4 linked regions of the Homo sapiens genome follow. The protein of the gene in region 2 purifies or fractionates together with the protein of the main gene of each other region. This does not show direct contact. Each region holds a gene or a part of one and is shown on either strand. Other genes may lie near its edges.

Region 1 (3,618 bases), on a different chromosome or scaffold from region 2:
AGCTGGGATTACAAGTGCCCACTACCACACCTGGCTAATTTTTGTATTTTTAGTGGAGGTGGGGTTTCGCCATGTTGGCCAGGCCGGTCTTGAACTCCTGACAGGTGATCCACCTGCCTCGGCCTCCCAAAGTGCTGGAATTACAGGCATGAGCCACCGTACCCAGCCAATAACTCACATTTATGAACTGCTCATCGTATGTCATGCACAGTTCTATTTATTTATTTATTTATTTATTTATTTATTTATTTATTTATTTATAAGAAGGAGTCTCACTCTGTCTCCCAGGCTGGAGTACGGTGGTGTGATCTTGGCTCACTGCAACCTCCACCTCCTGGGTTCAAGCAATCCTCCTGCCTCAGCCTCTTAAGTAGCTGGGACTACAGGCGCCTGCCACTATGCCTGGCTAATTTTTGTATTTTTGGTAGAGATGGGGTTTCACTATGTTGGCCAGGGTGGTCTTGAACTCCTGACTTTAGGTGATCCACCGCCTTGGCCTCCCAAAATGCTGGGATTACAGGCGTGAGCCACCAAGCCTGGCCTTTGTTCTCATTATTTAAATAATCCTCATGAGAACCCAATGATGTTGGTGACTGTTAACCTCATTTTACAGATAAGGAAACTGAGGTACAGAATAATTAAATAACTCACCCAGGTCACATGTCCGGTAAGGGTTAAAGCCACAATTTGAACTCAAACAACCTAAAATAGTTCCTTTGCTCTTAACTACTTTACTATTCTACCTATCAGTTTTCTAAGAGATGTTCAATTAACTTTTGTTTGTTTGTTTCTAAATGTTTTAACTCACAGATTAAGGTTGTTACTCTTCTCTTTCAAAACTTTTTTTTTAAAAGACTGGGCATTTCCAAACAAGGAATGCTACAAAGTTGTTAATGGTTTATTTCACAAAGGAGGTCCTTAAAATCCTATGAAAACAGACAAAGACAAACTCCTATAGCAAAGATACATATTCTTGAACTAGAGTATTCCTTTCCTCTACAAATAATTTAATGTTGAAACACTAAATTTTTAAAGCACACACACACATAAACATGTTTTAGCTCTAGGTTAAAAACAATTGTTGGCTGACAGCAAGACCAATACAAAATTATTATTAAAGTCAACAAAGTCAAGGGTGCTTAGGATACATTTTAAAGGAAACTAGGTCCTACTAGATTAAGGGCAGTTAAAAAAAAAAAAAAAAAAAGCGGTGAGTAACTAGGGCTCAGGGCATATCCCAAGATTTTTTATTCTGCTCCTCAATGGCTCTTTACTTAAAAATCATGTGATTCTTATAATGCTTTTATTTTCTTTCTTACTACCTCATGCTAGGAGAAAGAAGGAAGCCACAACCAGGCAGAGTGATGGGTGGACACATGGAAACTTCCTCACTCACTACTTGCTGCAAAAGGAATCTAGCAAATAGTGAATGAAACATCAAAATCAACCATGAATGGAACTTGCATCAGACACCCAAGGAGAACTGCAATGTATCTCTGTGAACACAGAGAACATTAGTCTGAAGAGCAAACATAAATACAAATATATTTCCGTTTTCACCAATCATCTTGAAAAACAAACATAAATACAAATATATTTCCATTTTCACCAATCATCTTGAAAGCCATAGAAGAGCCTTTCAGAAAAAAAAAAAAAAAAAAAAAAACTACTATCGCAGAAAGGAAATACTAGCCCTTTCTCAAGCGTTTGTCTTCTGAGTCTCAGAGTTACCATAATGCCTGGATACCCAGTCTCCAGGATGGAGATGTCTGTATTACATGACTTGACATGGCAGGAAAGATACAAGATAGGTTATCTCTGTGAAGCATCTCTCCTCATAAAGAATTAATGCTGCCCAGTGAAACACTTCAGAGAACAAAAGAAGGGACGTTCAACATCTGGCTAGGAGCAAAGCTAATGAGGAAGAGACCTACCATTTTCAGGTCTTCTTACAAAAGTGAATTAATAAATAGATGAGCATATCATTTGAAAAATGACAATTTATGTACTCAAAAAATACATTTTATCTCAAAATTAGTCTGAAGGTTTAGTTAATTCTTGTAGTCTCAGTCTGTACTCACAGGTATTAAATGGTATCACTGATAGTGAGAGTCAGTCTCTGTCCATTTAGATTCACTCTTTTGAGACCAATTTCATTTTTACTAATGCCAAGAATGTGTGTCAACCACAGGTAGGCACATCGTCTATTACAGTGGGATTATGACAGTCAAGTCTTAGACACGAAACAATCAGGTAGCACCACAGCACTCTTAAAAAGGACACATTAGATAAACAATAGTTTTTCCTCTTACATCCTTTGTAAAATTGAGCTACGGATTTGCAAATGAATAAATTTGCATTGAACTACATATTTCCCACTATTTCACTGTACTCTACAATTAGCTTTTAAAAGAATGATTTAAAGATCTTTCAGTGGTGTGCATATTGTTATAAATAATAATTCCCCCTTTTAAGGAACCACATTCTATCAGTATAGAGAGACAGGTATACAAATATTTGTACATATATACATGGATAGATACTTTTTTCTTTTTTCTTTAATAAGAATTACAGATGAGATCTCGCTATGTTACCCAGGCTGGTCTAACTCCTGGCCTCAAGCGATCCTCCAGCCTTGGCCTCCCAAAGCAGTGGGATTACAGGTGTGAGGCGCTGTGCCTGGCCGCCTTTTCCTTTAGAGAGAAAGAAAATCTGCCGGGCGCGGTGGCTCACACCTGTAATACCAACACTTTGGGAGGCCGAGGTGAGTGGATCACGAGGTCAGGAGATCGAGACCATCCTGGCTAACACGGTGAAACCCCATCTCTACTAAAAATACAAAAAATTAGCCGGGCGTGGTGGCAGGCGCCTGTAGTCCCAGCTGCGCAGGAGGCTGAGGCAGGAGAATGACATGAACCCGGGAGGAGGAGCTTGCAGCGAGTCGAGATCACACCACTGTACTCCAGCCTGGGCGACAGAGCGAGACTCCGTCTCAAAAAAAAAAAAAGAAAAAAAGAAAATCACAAGGCATACGACATCTCTAAAATGTCTTGCATTAACTCAGCCCACTCTTGAGCATAAAAGAATTATCAAAAGAAAGTTACCATGGAGCAGTCTTGATTACTTTAGAGACTGTACAAAGTGTTGGGCCTCAGGCAGCCAGAGGACAGGTAATGACTCGACACAGAAACATCTGGTTGGGGCTCTCACTATCCCTGCCTGGGTCACTAAAGTAGTCTCCTTCCCTCCAACCTCATTGCCACCCCATCGCCTACAAAAGTTACTTTTCTGGCCGGGCGGGCGTCGTGGCTCACGCCTGTAATCCCAGCACTTTGGAAGGCCGAGGCAGGCAGATCACCTTAGGTCAGGAGTTCAAGACCAGCCTGGACAATATGGTGAAAACCCATTTCTACTAAAAATACAAAAATTAGCCGGGCATGGTGGCAGATGCCTGTAATCCCAGCCACTTGGGAGGCTGAGGCAGGAGAATTGCTTGAACCTGGAAGGTTGAGGGTTGCAGTGAGCCGAGATCGCGCCACTGTAACTCCAGCCTGGGCAACAGAGTTTGACTCACTCAAAAAAAAAAAAAAAAAAAAAAAAAAAAAGAAAGAAAGAAGA
Region 2 (3,618 bases):
GCTCCCCTCTCTTCTTATGAACTGCCACCTATGATAGCCTACTAACTGCCTCTTCTTACAAACTGTTCTCTACACTAGAGTTAAAATCATCTTTGCAAAACTTAAATATGATGCCATATTCCTACTTAAAATTTTCAACGGCATCTCATTACACTTGTGATAAAACTAAAAGCCTTACCTTGATCTATTAAGTCCTATAGGACTTAGCTTCCTACACTTCTCTGTAGTTTTATCTCCAATCCACCACCCTATAACTTTCTGCATCTCAGTCATACTGCATTTACTTCATTTTTTTTTAGACAGAGTCTTACTTTATTACCCAGGCTGGGGAGCACTGGCACGATCATAGCTCACTTCAACCTTGAACTCCTGGGCTCAAGCCTCCTCCCTCCTCAGCTGCCCTAGTGTCTGGAACTGTAGGCATGCAATACCACGTTTGACTAGTTTTTTTGTAGAGATGAGGTCTTGCTATGTTGTTCAGGGAACATAGTCAGGTCTGCTACTCCTGGCCTCAAATGATCCTCCTATCTTGGCTCCCAAAGCATATTTCATTTCTTGTAACTCATCATGCTCCCATATTCTGTCTCACCACTGGTCTTACAAATGCAGTTCCTTCTGCCTAGAATGTTCTTCTCCCCATCATCCATTCTACAGTTACCCTCAAATTGTGTCTACTTATTTCCTGCCCATTCTTTGAATCTCTGCTTAAATGTCACTTTCTTGGAAACCCTTCTTTATATTAATCCTATGTACTATACTATATAATAATAATACATATAATATATATGTGAACTGTACATATTAACATTCTATAATTATTTTGTGCTTATTTGATTGATGTTGAGCTCTATATATGAATATGTTACTTATAGTAGGTAAATATTTAACTAGATAAATACACAAGAAAGAAAGAGAACTGAAAAGTACTCATGGAGGATGAAGGTGATTCAGAAAAGAATAGTGATCCATAAACTAAGAAAACAACTAATTTCCATAAGGCAAAAGTGTCAAGAAGAACAGAATAAACTACTATTAAAACAAACAAAAAAGGTCAAGTAGGATGAGTACTGGAAGTAGGTCACTGGGCTTGGAATAAAGGAGATTATAGATGTCCTTATTGAGAAGAGCTTTCATGGAGTGATGGGAAAAAAGTCCAGATGCTCTAGGTTAAGACCTGCATATGAATCGTGAATAGAGTGACAGCAAATTATTCTTTAAAGACAGCTTTCCAAAAACTTTTAAACAGTAGCATTTACCTTTTAATATCTCTATGAATATGATGATTTTCATGTAGAAAATTGATGCCATTAGCTGCACCCTGAGCAATCTTGCATCTCATGTGCCAAGAAAGTGGTGGAGTACCATCCTTATAAAGAAATAAACCAAATTAAAAATGAGAAAGAATAATAAAAAATCTACAGAGAATATATAACACAGAATATTTTTCTAGGCAACAACTGAAGATGATGTTATAGCATTAATAATTTAGGACTACATTTTTAAGTTATTAAAAATAATATCTAAATAAGCTCAAATGGGTGTTTACATTTGTTATTTGAAGATAAAAATATATAAAAGCATCTTCCTAGTATAGTCTTAACTGAATTCTACATTTAAGATTACCACCTAATAAAATGGCAACCCAGTTGTTGACATATCAACTGTATAATTTGTTGACATATCAACTGTATAATTTTCATAGAGCAGGAAAAATATGAAAGTGAATTTGGTTTAAATAATCCAGTAACAAAATGAATATTAATATTCCAGCATATAAACAAAAAGCCAAACAATCTGATGAACAAATAGCTTACCAAGCAAGAGAGTCTGTCTAGCAATGAACCATTAGGCATGTAAACATATACTAAGCAGAGGTCATCTCCATCACTTGAGAAACCAAGTAGTTCTACTAAGTTTTCATGTTGACACCTGTGACAAATAATTTTTCATGCAAAATTATTATAATAAATATATATTCAGCTATAGGTTGGAAGTTATTCAAAGTTTTAATAGAAAAAAAGAGCAAAAAAATAGTATGTTATATATTATTTCTAACTTGATGTTTATGTTTATATATGTTTATTGTAACTGTTTATAATTTTCTGCAAATACTTCTCTTTTCAGCCAGTATTAATCAACATTAGAAGTAAAACCTCTTTTTCTTTTTTTTGAGACAGGGTCTAACTCTGTTGCCCAGGCTGGAGTGCAGTGGTGTAATCATAGCTCACTGCGGCCTCGACCATCTGGACTCAAGTGATCCTCCTAACTCATCCTCCCAAGTAGCTTGGACTACTGGTGTACACCACACTCAGCTACTTTTTAAATTTTTTTGTAAAGATGAGGTCTCACTGTGTTTCCCAGACTGGTCTCAAACTGCTGGCCTCAAGTGCTCCTACCACTTTGGCCTCCCAAAGTATTGGGATTACAGGTGTGAGCCACTACAGCTGGCCAAACCTCTTTCTATTTTACAGTAAAAGCTAAATAATTCAGATTTTTGGAACTTGTGATAAGTTTGGTTAAGGACTAGGCTGATGCTCACTTTCTTTAGCCCAATTTTCAATGATGGCACAAATAAGATTTCAAGAAGTCCGTTGAATTTTTATGCTAATACTGTCAAGAATTTTCTAACACACTCAAAGCACTGATTTACAGACATGATCTTGAATCACATCTAATTTACATGTTTTTGATCTTTAATCACACTGGATTATTTATAACCTAATTTGAGTGTCTTTATATACTTGAGAGTAATAAAACTAAAGAGACCTACAATCTAATAAAGTGGCAGCATCTGTGGTAAGACGAAAGAAAACAGGGCTCAGAGTTATACATCCTAAATTTAAAGTCTAGTTCTGCCCCCTCCTGGATATGTGACCTACCGCAAGTTAACAGCCTTACTGAGCCTCAGCTCCTTTATCTGCTAAATGCAGAAAACAGTATGTAATATGGATGCTGAGACAATTAAATGAGCAAATGTAAACATGACAGCCTAGAAACGTATCTGGCACATGATAAGTGTTTTATTATTTAAGTGCTTATTCATTTTGTTCATTCAAAATGATCCACAATTCTAGCAGTTCATTATATCAATTTCTTCTAGTCTCATAAATATTTGAAGAAGTGCAAATTAAAACAGTAAGTGTCCCATTTTCCACCAAACTGGCACATTTTAAACATGAGTAGTTAACGTTTGCTGAATTTATACTATAAACGAGGCAGTGTGGCAAGTGATTTATCTGTTTTATTTAATCCTCACAATAACTTAAGTAAGTACTATTGTCCCATTTTATAGATGAGAAAATTAACGAATAGAAAGTTAAAAAACTTGGCCAAGTTCATTCTGCTAGTAAGATCCAGAGACTGGCACTTATTAAAAAATTGTAATAATAGGCCGGGCGCAGTGACTCACGCCTGTATTCCCAGCCGAGGCAGGCAGATCACGACGTCAGATCTAAACCATCCTGGCTAACGTGGTGAAACCCCGTCTCTACTAAAAATACAAAAACAAAATTAGCCGGGCATGGTGACGGTCGCCTGTAGTCCCAGCTACTCTGGAGGCTGAGGCGGGAGAATGGCGTGAACCTGGGAGGCGGAGCTTGCAGTGAGCCAAGATCGCAC
Region 3 (3,618 bases), on a different chromosome or scaffold from region 2:
ACACACACGAAAGAAAAGAAAAAAAAGCCACCCAATCCATGTTTTTTTCAAATGGCTTTTATTTTGTTTCCCTGGGGGGTGGGGAAAGAGTGCAATTCTCCTAGGAGACTGTGATGCTGCAGCAACAGCAGAGGCTAAGAGGAATGTGGTCCAACACCAACTTATAGTCTTTTGTTTTGCTGACACAGGGTCTCGCTCTGTCGCCCAGGCTGGAGTGCAGTAGTGATGAGTTCACTGCAGCCTTGACCTCCAGGGCTCAAGTGATTCTTCCACCTCAGCCTCCCAAGTAGGTGGGACTATAGGCACTTGCCACCATGCCCAGCTAATTTTTAATTTTTTTTGGCTGGGCGCAGTGGCTCATGCCTGTAACCCCAGCACTTTGGGAGGCTGAGGTGGGTGGATCACCTAAGGTCAGGAGTTCGAGACTAGCCTGGCCAACATAGTGAAACCCATCTCTACTAAAAATAGAAAAATTAGCTGTAGTCCCAGCTACTCAGGAGGCTGAGGCAGGAGAATCTCTTGAATCCGGGAGGTGGAGGTTGCAGTGAGCTGACATCATGCCACTACACTTCAGCCTGGGCAACAGAGTGAGACTCTGTCACACAAAAAAAAAAAAAAAAAAAAAAAAATTGTAGAGACAGAGTCTCACTCTGTTGCCCAGGCTGGTCTCCAACTCCTGGGCTCAAGTGATCCTCCTGCTTTGGCCTCCCAAAATGCTGGGATTACAGTTCTGAGCCACCATACCTGTCCCCAAGTTGTAGCCTTACAGTGTAATTGATGGTAACATATATTGACATTTTGTATTTATGAAGGAAAATATACTTATTTCAGACAAAACCAAGCTTATTTAGGTTATGTGGAAGGGAAAAACTTAATTACCAAAGGCCAAGGCAAGGATGAAAATTATTTGATAGAGAATATCACACATTTCAGTTTTTTCACAATATAACCTTTCAGGGATATTTACTCTGTTTCTAGAATGCATTTAAAATTACATATTGATGGTACTTTTAAGATGAATGCTTAAGAATATTTAAGAAGGCAGGACCCTGGCAGCAGCTTGGATAGAACTGGAAGACAGGAGCCTTGGCTCAGAGTCCCAGCTCCTCAGCAGATTTGACACTGTGGCCCAAAGACGTCTGATCTCTAAGTCACTTTTTCTTTCTAGAGTTTCATTTCCTCATCTCTAAAATGCAACGTTTGTAGAGCTGATAACTGTGAAGGTCCCTGACAGATCAAATATTCCAGGATTTCCTAGGAAGACATGAGCTCAGGCCTCTGGTCTCCCAGGACAGCCTGGATGCTCCTCTAAAACACTGCTGGCGTGGGCCTGTGCCCTGTAGAGGGCACCTCTGAGGCTCCCTCCATCTCGGGACAGCGAGGCCCCACTGGGTCATAGCAGGCAACAGGGTTTTGAGTTATTCCAGCCACCACCCTCCTCAACATTTTCTTACTTTCTTTCCCTTGGCCTCAGAGACCCCAATTGTTCAAGGCTGTTCTGTGTCTGAGGAGATTATATCCGTTCAGTAGAAAAAAGATCAATGAAAGAAAACTATAAAAATAACCAGATTAAAAGGATAGGGGAAAGAAGAAAACAGAGAACAATTTGACTAAAGGACATCTGCTGTTCAGAAAATTATTTGAAGCCAGGGACTGTACCTTATTTTGGGGGGGCCCCTCTGAGCCTAGTATAACCCTGGTAATAAAAAGTAAGGCATATACTAAATATTTGCTGAAAGAGTCAATGAATAAAGAATGAATAATGGAAGGAACCCAAAAGTTTCCTTATGGGATATAAGGCAGTAGAGGTGGTGGGATCTTTGTAACACACACACACGCACACACACACACACTCACATGCACACATATCACACACACACACATACACACACTCACACATGCACACGCAAACACACATCCTGAAATACTCTCCAGGACTCACCTGTCCAGTGTTCCTAAATTTAGATGCCATGGCCCCTGCTACAGCCTGGTCCACGTTGGCACTGTCAAATACTATAAATGGAGCAAGGCCGCCCAGCTCCATAGAGACCCTTTTCACAGAGTTTGCTGCGTGGTGCAACAGGATCTGTGAGCAGAGGAGAGAAAGCTGTGAGCACAGAAATCCATTACCAGGATTGTTAAGCCTTTGTTTAAAAAAATTACCAAATGGTGAAAAAAGCAAGGTGCACAGTGGTGTACATGGGATAACTTTGCATAAGAAAACGGAGAAATAAGAATATATATTTACATTTGCTTGTATTTGATAAAGAAACATTGGGAAGAGGCTGGGTGTGGTAGTGTGCACCTGTAGTCCCAGCACCTTAAGAGGCTGAAGTGGGAGGATTACTTGAGGCCAGGGGTTCCAGACCAGCCTGGGCAGCATAGGGAGACTCCATTTCAAAAATTAAATAAATAAATAAATTAGTAAAATAAACACTGGGATGACAAGACACTAAAAGTCATTATTTATAGAAAGAGGGAGTGAGTCAGGGTTGGGGTAGGGTGAGACTTGTCATGGTAAACATTAATACTGTCTTAATTTTTCAACCATATAAGTAAGTGTTTATCTATTCAAAACAATTATATGATGGGCTTAAAAATCATAGAGATAAGAAAATAAAATCACCTAGAATCCCACAACCCACAGCTTACACTGATAACATTTTAAAGTACATCCATTTAGAATGTAGCCATGCAGATTCAGGTACATGTACATTTAAAAAAAAAAAAACAGGATGGTATAATTATATAATTATACCGTTTCGTAACCTGCTTTATCTTCCCAATGAATCACATATTTGGGACGTCTATCTTAAAATTTTCATAACCCTTTATATCTTGCTCCTTTAATGTAACACTCTAATGTGAAGATCCTCTTGTGTCAGCACATATGTTTCTAGAACTTTATTTATTATTATTATTGAGATGGAGTCTCGCTCTGTTGCCCAGGCTGTAGTGCAGTGGCGCAATCTCCAGTTACTGCAACCTCCACCTTCTGGGTTCAAGCAATTCTTCAGCCTCAGCCTCTTGAGTAGCTGGCATTACAGACATGTGCCACCACACCTGGCTAATTTTTGTATTTTTAGTAGAGATGGGGTTTCGTCATGTTGGCCAGGCTGGTCTTGAACTCCTGACCTCAAGTGATCTGTCTGCCTCAGCCTCCCAAAGTGCTGGGATTACAGGTGTGAGCCACTGTGCCCGGCCTAGAACATTCCTTTAGATGCTTGCATAGTATTCCACTGCATGGCTCTTCTGTAATTTATTTATTCAGGCCCCATCTGTTGGACATTTAGGTTGTTTCCATCCTTGCCATTAAAAAAACGCTGTGGATCGCGCCACTGCACTCCAGCCTGGGCTACAGAGCGAGACTCCATCTCAAAAACAAAACAAAACAAAAGACAAAAACACTGTGATGATTCTGTCAGGATGAACATGTAGAATTGCTAGCTCAATGTATAATCATAAGGCTTTTGGTACCTATAGCTATTATAGTTTAAATATCCAGTAAGAGATTTCATAGCCTAAGAAGCTGCTTAGGGATGTTTAAATGCTTTATTAAGGATAGTAGGTCTTTGTCTAGTCATGGCTGCAGGAAAGATGGGACCACACTTGAGATAG
Region 4 (2,838 bases), on a different chromosome or scaffold from region 2:
GTAATTCTGCAGAAAGGGGGGGATATGAACTTCGCACTGCAGTGTCTTCTTGCTCCATCCTAGGTCTGTCTATATCTCTATCTGGCTATGATCCTTTCTAGGGTTGATGAATACCCTTTACTGAGTCAACTATTGCTTTAAAGAATTTTTTTTGTAGGTTTATGTACTCATTTTAGTTAGCATCTACCTCTCTGGGAAAATGAAAGGAGGGTTGACTTAGGGATGAGTATAGATGTTGAAAGACAACTATCAAACCATGTGGTTTGAATTTTTAAAATTGTAAAACATTGGTGTCCAAACCTCCCACCCCACTTGTATGTAAAGGACAGTGAGTGTTGTATAAATAGTAAACTATAAGAAGCATGAATTTTCATCTTTATTAATGATCTTGAAATAAGGAAGAGAATGCTTAATATGTTAAGTAGAGCCAAGAATGCTACTAAGAAGCATTGTCTTTGGAAAAATTTTGTATAATGACTTGGGGCATAAGTTGTGATGAAAAGGCAACTTGGTTTTTGGTTCCAGTCATACTTAATGATCAGAAAGCTCTAAGATGTTTTCTTTAAAAATAGAATTAAGTTTAATTTTTTGCATGGCTTACAGATTGGGTCCCTTGAAGGTTAAACCATGTGATGGTATAACCTGTGAGATCTTCTAGATTGGCACTGTTCAATAGGGCTTTCTGTGATGATGGAAATGCTCGAAAACCTGTGCCGTCTGGTACGGTAGCCACCAGGCACATTGACTTTTAGGCAGTTAAAATGGGGTTACTACAAGGGAAGAACTGGATTTCAAATTTTATTTAATTTTAATTAGCTTAAATTTAAATAGCCCTATGTGTCTAGTGGCTGCCATATTGAACGATGCAGTTCTGGGTGATAGCGCTTGGGGATCCAGCATCAAGGTATTAATGGAGTAACAGTGAGGCTAAGGTGAGAGTTTGTGGGCTAGTGACATGCAGTTGGCAAAAGGCAAAACATTCCTTTCTGGGCTTAAAAAGTATGTGATCTCAAGTATGACAGTAAAAATTCATTGTTGCCCTTTGGAACTGTTGCTTATAGATTTTAGGCCAAGGAATGATCAGTGAAGCTTAAAGAATGCTTTATTAAGCCCCTTTTCTGGGATCATTAGCTGCATGTTAACCTATTGTCCAAAAATAGTAGTTAGACAGTACCTGTAAAACGTTTGACTTGCAAGCTATGCATGATCTGTACTGTGAAATTGTGTCTAGGGTCTTGTGGCCAAAAAGTAAATGTTACAGGAAAAAAAAAGCCTAATGAAATCCCTGTTCACTTCCAGTATCCTATCCAAACTTCATTGCTGTATTAGTAAGGTGCAAATATAAGAGCAAGCATGTTTTGCAGTGTTCAGACTGGTTTTGTTTGCCCTTGAAGTTGGCCAGCTTGTCGTTGTATTTGGTGTGGGCATATGTGGGCATCATTTTTCAGATGCCAAACTAAAATGTAGGTAGTATTTTTAGAATGAGATTTGACATTGTTTTAGTGTCTTTCTTTTTTAAGCAAAAATTTCAGTTATCCCTGAAAGAGTTGAAGATTTGAAGCTTTGCACAAAAGCACTTTTTTTAACAGTAAAAAATACTGCCCATGAAATTTAAAGACTTGAAGTTTACTAAAGCTACAATAATTACTTTTTAGCTAAATAAAAGGAAGCAGAAAATTCAGTTTGAGATATATTTCCTATAAAGACCAGATTCTTACTGATAATCTGGTATTTATTCCAGTCTAGATTTTGATTTTAAGAGTTCCCATCCCTTTATTTGAAAACTTATGTTGTTTCAAAATTGGTTAGTCTGCTTTTCATTGTTTTCCAAATGGAATATATACAAAATACATTTACTTCATTTTAGCAGAAATGGGTTGATTTTTTTTTTCTAGAACTCATCAATGTGCAAGACTTTCCTTCTTAGCTTGCCTTTAAAAATCATTTAATTTTTTTTTTTTTGCCAAGATACTAATCTTTCTTTAGCCTTAATAGGAAGATAGAAGTTCAAAAGTTATCGGTGCAAAAGGAGTGATACACAAAAGACTTCAATTTCTATCTTTTCTCAGAAAAGTGATGCTGCCCACCAGTCAGCATTTTGTTTCCACATAAGAAGTGTCAGGTAGTCAGTCTGTCATCCCTGACTTAGATAGAGAAGCTGTTCCTTGACATTTCCATCATTCTCAGTAAATTGTCACCTACAAGGTAATTCTTACCAAAACAGAAACTATTGAGAATAATAAGATAGTCGAGATAATTCAGTAGCTGTTTTGAAAGTAGTAGTCTATTTAAAAAGCAACGATGTTCAGTTGCTGGATTTTGTTCAACATGAGACACTTATTTATTTATTTATTTATTTATGAGATGGAGTTTTGCTCTTGGTGCCCAGGCCAGAGTGCAATGGCATGATCTCAGCTCACTGCAACCTCCGCCTCCCAGGTTCAAGCTATTCTCCTGCCTCAGCCTCCTGAGTAGCTGGGATTATAGGCATGCGCCTCCATGCCCAGCTAATTTTGTATTTTTTAAAGTAGAGACGGGGTTTCTCCATGTTGGTCAGGCTGGTCTCCAACTTCTGACTTCAGGCGATCCACCCGCCTCGGCCTCCCAAAGTGCTGGGATTACAGGCATGGGCCACTGCACCCAGCCAACATGAAACACTTCTAAAAGATAAGTGGAAATTCAAGCCATTGATTTTTCTGACACAACTGACTTACTACACACACACACACACACACACCACGATTTAGCTGTAATTGGAGTTAAAATTCAGTAAAAAACTGTTATTAGTCATGTTTTCCAATTTGTGAGTTATACAATATTGGATTAGATGCTAATTTC

What was found.
Region 1: the proteins of IRAK4 (region 2) and SASH1 purify together in Homo sapiens (affinity purification with western blotting, with the first as the bait; one study listed by BioGRID). This does not show direct contact.
Region 3: the proteins of IRAK4 (region 2) and ALDH5A1 purify together in Homo sapiens (affinity purification with mass spectrometry; one large-scale study listed by BioGRID and IntAct). This does not show direct contact.
Region 4: the proteins of IRAK4 (region 2) and RNF152 purify together in Homo sapiens (affinity purification with western blotting, with the first as the bait; one study listed by BioGRID). This does not show direct contact.

Annotation. Positions count from the first base shown.
Region 1 is NC_000006.12:148,349,240-148,352,857, reverse strand, and holds part of SASH1 (SAM and SH3 domain-containing protein 1), read right to left. Parts: intron 1-3,618. UniProt on the Homo sapiens protein: Is a positive regulator of NF-kappa-B signaling downstream of TLR4 activation. It acts as a scaffold molecule to assemble a molecular complex that includes TRAF6, MAP3K7, CHUK and IKBKB, thereby facilitating NF-kappa-B signaling activation.
Region 2 is NC_000012.12:43,775,941-43,779,558, reverse strand, and holds part of IRAK4 (interleukin-1 receptor-associated kinase 4), read right to left. Parts: intron 1,930-3,618; coding exon 1,815-1,929; intron 1,367-1,814; coding exon 1,257-1,366; intron 1-1,256.
Region 3 is NC_000006.12:24,518,869-24,522,486, reverse strand, and holds part of ALDH5A1 (succinate-semialdehyde dehydrogenase, mitochondrial isoform 2 precursor), read right to left. Parts: intron 2,087-3,618; coding exon 1,943-2,086; intron 1-1,942. UniProt on the Homo sapiens protein: Catalyzes one step in the degradation of the inhibitory neurotransmitter gamma-aminobutyric acid (GABA).
Region 4 is NC_000018.10:61,810,172-61,813,009, reverse strand, and holds part of RNF152 (E3 ubiquitin-protein ligase RNF152), read left to right. Parts: 3' UTR 1-2,838. UniProt on the Homo sapiens protein: E3 ubiquitin-protein ligase that acts as a negative regulator of mTORC1 signaling by mediating ubiquitination of RagA/RRAGA and RHEB.